2 separate regions of the Homo sapiens genome follow, and region 2 is linked to region 1. Evidence: fine-mapped expression QTL. A gene starts in region 1. The other region holds a variant in brackets. All regions are shown on one strand. Distances are between the middles of the regions. Region 1 holds the start of ZMYND11 (zinc finger MYND-type containing 11). Region 2 has its middle 37 kb from the start of TUBB8.

Region 1 (2,898 bases):
ACACGCACAGCTCATATGGCAGCAGGGTACCAGGCACCTACTGCACACAATACCGGGGGCTGAGTGCACAGCCTAAGCGAGGAAGATACATGTACACACCGTGTATGATAGCCGGTACGACACCGGGTACTTCGAGCACACTGCATATGACACAGAGTACACACCATATATAATCCCCGGTACTGCGTACCCACCGCATAGGACACCGCACTGCACAACGAGCACTGGTACACACGAATAAAACAGGTACGGCGGTCACTCTGCAAAAGACACCGGGCACGGCGCACACATCGCCAGCTCCTCCTCCTCCCGGCTCGGGAGAAAAGCGCGAGGAGAGACTGCAAGTGAAAGTCCGGGTCCCGGCGCCCCCCCTCGTCCCAGCCGCGTCCTCAGCAGCTTCTCCCCGGAGCTCTGGGTGGGAGGAGGGCGGCGGACCCCACAGGACTGTCCCGGAGGTCCGCGAGGACCTGTTGAGGCGGCGGCCTCGCTGCCGGGGTCGCTCACAGCCCCGGGGGACCGACGAATCTCCGCCCCGGGCCTCGGGGCCAGCCCTGCCCGCCGCTCCCGGGCTAGCACACGACGTGCCGCGCCGACAAACGCTTCCTCTCCGCCCGCCACACGCCCGGAGCCGCGTTCCCCGCCGGCCCGGACTGCGCACGGGCCCAGGAGGCCTGACCGAAAGCGGGGCACAGGGCCCGGCGGGCGGTGCTCACGCGACTCCGCGGCTTCCCGGCCCGAGCAGGCCCCGCGCGGTCCTCCGGGGCCTCATCCCGGGGCCTCTTCCGCGGCCGCCCAAGGCGAGTGGGCGCGGGCCGGCAGCCTCCGCAGGCCCCGCCGCCGCCCTCGCAGGCCCCGCCGGCCCGGCCCGCCCCGCCATCCACAAAGCTCCCCGGCAGCTCGGAGCTCTTCGCGAGCGGGCGAGCGACCGTCAGCACCCACTGGTGCCGCCGCCGCCCCAGAGGCCGCGGCCAGGCAGGCTCCACCGCGCGGGCCGCGCCATCTCCACGGACGCCCCCGCCCGCCCCGCCGCCCCGCCGCCGAGCTTTCCCCACCATTATGCTCCGGCTCCTCCACCGCCGCCGCCGCCGCGCCCGGCCCTCCCCTCCGGTGCCGCCTCCTTCCCGCCGCCCGGCGCCTCTCGGGCCTGAGCCGGCGACGGGCGCGGGGGGCGGGGGGGACGCTCAGGCCGCCTCCTCCTCCTCCCTGCCGGCCTCCTCCCTCCTCCCCGGCTCCCCCCCGCCCGGACCCCGCCGCCGGCTCCGCGCGAAGGGCTCCGGGCTCGAGGGGCGCCATGTTTGTAATACTCCACCTCAGAGAACGCCGCGGTCGCGCCTGAGCGAGGGAGGCTAGGCGGCCGGGTCGCCGCGTGCGGGGTGAGGGCCGGGAGGGCACCGCCGCCCGCACTTACTCGCGTCTTCCCCTGGCGCCGCGGGCCTGCGGGGCCGGAGCGGGCGGCGGGAAGTTGGGCGCCGCCGCCCGGGAAAGTTGGGTCCCCGCGAAGCCGCGGCAGCCGCTCACATGGCGATGCGCGCGGGGCGGCCGCTCGGCCCCACCGGCCCCTCGGCCCGCCCGCCCTCGGAGTTTATTGTGTCGGGTCGAGGCGCCCCGCGGCCGGGCCGCGCACTGGGGGCTCTAGCGGCTGGCGCCGGACTTGCGCGCGGCCGGCCCGGCTCGCGGCCGCCTCCCGCCCGGGGCCGGAGCCGTGCACGCGGCTCCTACCTTCCCCACGTCCTGTCTTCGGCGCCTCTATCCGAAATTTGTTGGAGCATATTCCTCTGTCTCCACACATGCACTCCGTATCCACACACACGTGAAGGCTACGTACGTGCAGGCGCGCTGGAGCCGGGAGCGGGCGCCGAGGCCGGGGCGCGAGGGGGCATTGTCAGGCGCCGCCGCAGCTCAGCCCCGGGTGGACCCGGTGCCTGCCCCTGGCTCGCGGGGTCCGGAACAGCGAAGTCTGAGAAGTACGAGTGCTTCTCTTAACAACATTGTTTAGGTAGTCTGAACAGCCCTTTACTCCTGTCATCAAAAAGAGCGGTAGGGATACGCTAAGTTCCCCGTTTCATCTCTGCGCAAACAGGACCGCGAAAAGAACAGGACCACCCATCAGCAGCCCTGCAAGAACACTGCAGATTTGCGCGAGAAGTAGGTTATCTTCTATGGAGAGGAATTCTAGACCTAATCAGAGACGATCCCTTAAGACTCTGGTTTAAGAAAGGTTCGGAGATAAGCATACTTTGATAGCGTTCACCTGTTTTCCCTGAGGACCTTTCGCCACTGGGAGTCGGGGAACACCTGTCAGTCAGAGTCCTCTGCTCTGAAATTCGGTGAGTACAGGACAGCAAGGTGTTTTCAGGGAGACCGCATTCTCATAACTTTTACTACAGTATAGTGTTATAATTGTTCTGGTTTATTATTAGTGTTGTTAATCTCTCATTGTGCCTGACTTCTAAATTAAACTTTATTATAGGCAGGTGTGTATAGGAGAAAACGTAGTGTAAGTAAGGTTCAGCACTACCCCGGGTTTCAGGTATCTATTGGCCGTCTTGGCACGTGTCCCCACCTGAAAAGTCATTAGGAAGAGACGGTTGTAGGAATTTGGGGATTCTGATAAAATATATCAATCTGCTTCTACAGCTGGTTTCTAAGACTGTTAGAATTTAGAAATGGGTGGTACTTGAATAGGTCTGTGATATACACTAGTCAAATAAACACAATCTTTCATGCTATTCACAGCCCTCAATCTGATACATCCCAGAGAGTTTTTGATTATCTCAAAGAACATCACAGAATAATTGTAATTCATTTTAAGAGTAAATATATATCGCTAAAAATTTAGTAGAGGGGTTAAAACGTGTCAGAAGAAAAGCAAGCCATGCCTGGTTTGAATGTTGGGCC
Region 2 (2,898 bases), 49 kb after region 1:
ACACAAGAGCTTCCTGACACCGAGCGCCTTATCTCCAGCCAACCTCTGGCTCCTCCAGGGATCCTGGGACTCAGGCTCATACTCCAGCATGGGGGGCTTTGCCCTTCTGGTGGTGCTGTCCTTTGGAGGCACCTTGGAACAGGGGTGCAACAGAGTTAAGGAAGTGCCATCTGTTGCATGGATACCTTGCTGCCACTCTTGTCCACCTTCCTGGGGTAAAATCCTGGGATGGGTCTTTATTTAAGAAGACAAAAGGGAGAGAGAATGCATAGAGGCCAGGAGCAGTGGCTCATGCCTGTAATCCCAGCACTTTGGGAGGCCAAGGAGGGGGTGGATCACTTGAGGTCAGGAGTTCGAAACCAGCCTGGCCAACATAGTGAAATGCTATCTCTACTAAAAATACAAAAAAATTAGCTGGCTGTGGCAGCAGGAGCCTATAATCCCAACTACTCAGGAGGCTGAGGCAGGAGAATCGCTTGAACCCAGGAGTTGGAGGTTGCAGTTAACCAAGATCACACTACTGCACTCCAGCCTGGGCAACAGAGGGAGACTCTGTCTAAAAAAAAAAAAAAAAAAAAGAATGCATAGAAGTTGTCTGTGTGACCCTGGGCAAGTCATTTCCCCTCCTTCCCTCCTTGGGAGTCAGCTCCTTGCCTGTGAACGGGGACAGTGCTTCTCCCTTACAAAGCTGTTGTGAGAATTAAAGTAGAAAATGCACCTGTGGTGGTTGTTGGTAGTGAGTGGTTCCCCCAATCCTGACTCCCCTGCAGGATGAGGCCTGGGCCCAGGGACAGGGGATGGGCTGGCAGAGGATGCCCGTCCTAGAGAGGAACCTTCTTGGCAGACGTGGAGACTTAGCTAAGCAAGAGTCCAAGATCTAAGTTTGAGGGTGCATCTTACACCCTGCAGCCATGAGTCTGCAGCTGGGTCGAGTGGCCTTTCTAAGCTTCAGTTCCTTATCGGTAAAGCCTGGGCAGTGGTGCCCAGCGTCTTTCACAGGACACAGTGTGAGTGCAGATGGAGACCCGCTGAGCAATCTGCTGGGGTGAAATTCATGGGGAGCACCCCTCCAGAGAGGGATGGCTCGCACAGGGCCCTCAGCCCAGCCCCTTGCAGGCTGGACCTTGAAGAGTGAGGCTCTGAGGCGAGACATGAGCACCTGGTTCCTGGCCTGCACCTGCATCTGCACCTGTGTCTGCTCGGGAGTCTCTGTCTTGGGGGATGGACGAGGTGAGGGCTGGGCACTAGTGTCTGTATGAGGTGTGTGGAGAACTAGGGCATGTTTGGGGGACTGGTTTGTCCGA[C/T]GTTGAGACCCTAGGGAAAGGTTTGGCCCAAACTGTGCTGGGGCATGTCCTCTAGGGGTCAGCCTGGACCTCAGTCTCTATTCTCCCTACCTTTACCTTCCTACCTTCAGTCCCCGCAGCAACCCTAGTCTCCCTTCCTTCACCCTCTTGACGCCTCTCTAAGTCTGACTTGCCCGTGTACCATGGGTCAGAGCCCGCCACTTCCCAGGCCTCCCAGTGCTTCCCTGGGCAGATTCTGGGATCATTCAGTGGTGACTGCCCTGCTAGGGTGTCAGCTGTCAGATCCCTTCACAACCCCCCAACTCAACTCTGCCCTGAAGCACTCACGGTGGGCTCCCAACTGTCACTGTCTCCAGGACCAAGGGCCAAACTTCACCTGCCTCACCAACAACAATCTCAGGATCGATTGCCACTGGTCTGCCCCAGAGCTGGGCCAGGGCTCCAGCCCCGGGCTCCTCTTCATTAGGTGAGCGTGGAGGGCCATGCCCACCTGGACAGGGATGAGGGTGAGGTCCCCAGGATGGCAGCAGCTACACCACGACAGTGTAACAGCCCCGTGGTGCTGACACTTGCCCTTTCTAGCAAGCAGGCTCCTGGTGGCACACATAAGTGCATCTTGTGGGGCAGTGAGTGCACTGTCGTGCTTCCACCCAAGGTGGTGCTCCTGCCGTCCGACAATTTCATCATCACTTTCCACCACTGCACGTTTGGGAGGGAGCAGGTCAGCCTGGTGGAGCTGCAGTACCTGCCCTGGAGACACGGTATCAGCTATAGACCTGGGGCAGGGCCCCTCGCCAATAACATCCTGGCTGCCTGGGGGCTGGGGTCAGGGCCCTGCAGCCTGTGACCCCTGTGGCCCAGCGAGTGTTCTCAGTCCCTGCCAAGTGAGATCCAGGGCTGGGGGCAGGCTTGGCCCCTGGGAGAGGAGGGCACACATGGTTACTGCGGGGGCAGGGTTTTGTAGAAAATAAAGATGCAGGGCTGCTAGTTTGGGGCAGGGGCTGGCACTAGAGTTATGTGAAATGCACTTCAGCCATACCAGGAAGGACTCCAATAAGATGCTGGGAAGGACTTCCAGCAGCAGACTGTGAAGGAAAGGGAACACAAGATTTAGAAACCGCCTAGTCTAGCTGCAGAGGCCAGAGGAAGTCATTGCTGTCCTGTCCCGCCTGGGGCTTTTCTGGACCAGTCTCCCTGTGAGGTGCCTGGTCTGAGAGGGCCTGGACCATGCCCCACCCCTTGGGTGTGTTGACTGACACACCCAGACCCATGGGGCTTCAGCCTTAGGTAGATTCACTCTGTTCCAGTGAAGCTGGACCCGCTCTCTGACTTGCAGAGCATCCTGACCTGGAGCATCAGTCCTGCCTTGGAGCTGATGACCACACTTCTCAGCTATGAGCTGGGCTTCAAGAGGCAGGAGAGGTAACACTTTGACTGGCTTCCCCTGGGGTCCTCTCTCCTGGGAGCAGCAGTCCAGGGCAGACTCCCCACTCTAAACAAGGAGATGTCAACTTGGAGTGATGAGGAGGGGAGGAACTGGAGCCAGGTGTGTGTGTGAACACACACGTGCTGACATGCACCTGTGTGTGCTTTG

What was found. PIP is the estimated chance that this variant, and not a neighbour inherited with it, causes the effect.
Region 2: its variant is the best candidate, but not a certain one, in a credible set for the expression of ZMYND11 in whole blood (INTERVAL, PIP 0.66).

Annotation. Positions count from the first base shown.
Region 1 is chr10:133,714-136,611 of GRCh38, reverse strand. It overlaps ZMYND11 (zinc finger MYND-type containing 11), which reads right to left and starts at 1,157. Exons shown (of 15, transcript NM_001370100.5): 1 at 1,053-1,157. RefSeq lists silencers at 1,730-1,908, 356-1,915.
Region 2 is chr10:84,460-87,357 of GRCh38, reverse strand. It overlaps the pseudogene IL9RP2. Among named protein-coding and RNA genes, the nearest start is that of TUBB8, 37 kb to the right of the region's middle. The variant C/T (reference allele first, on the strand shown) is at 1,305.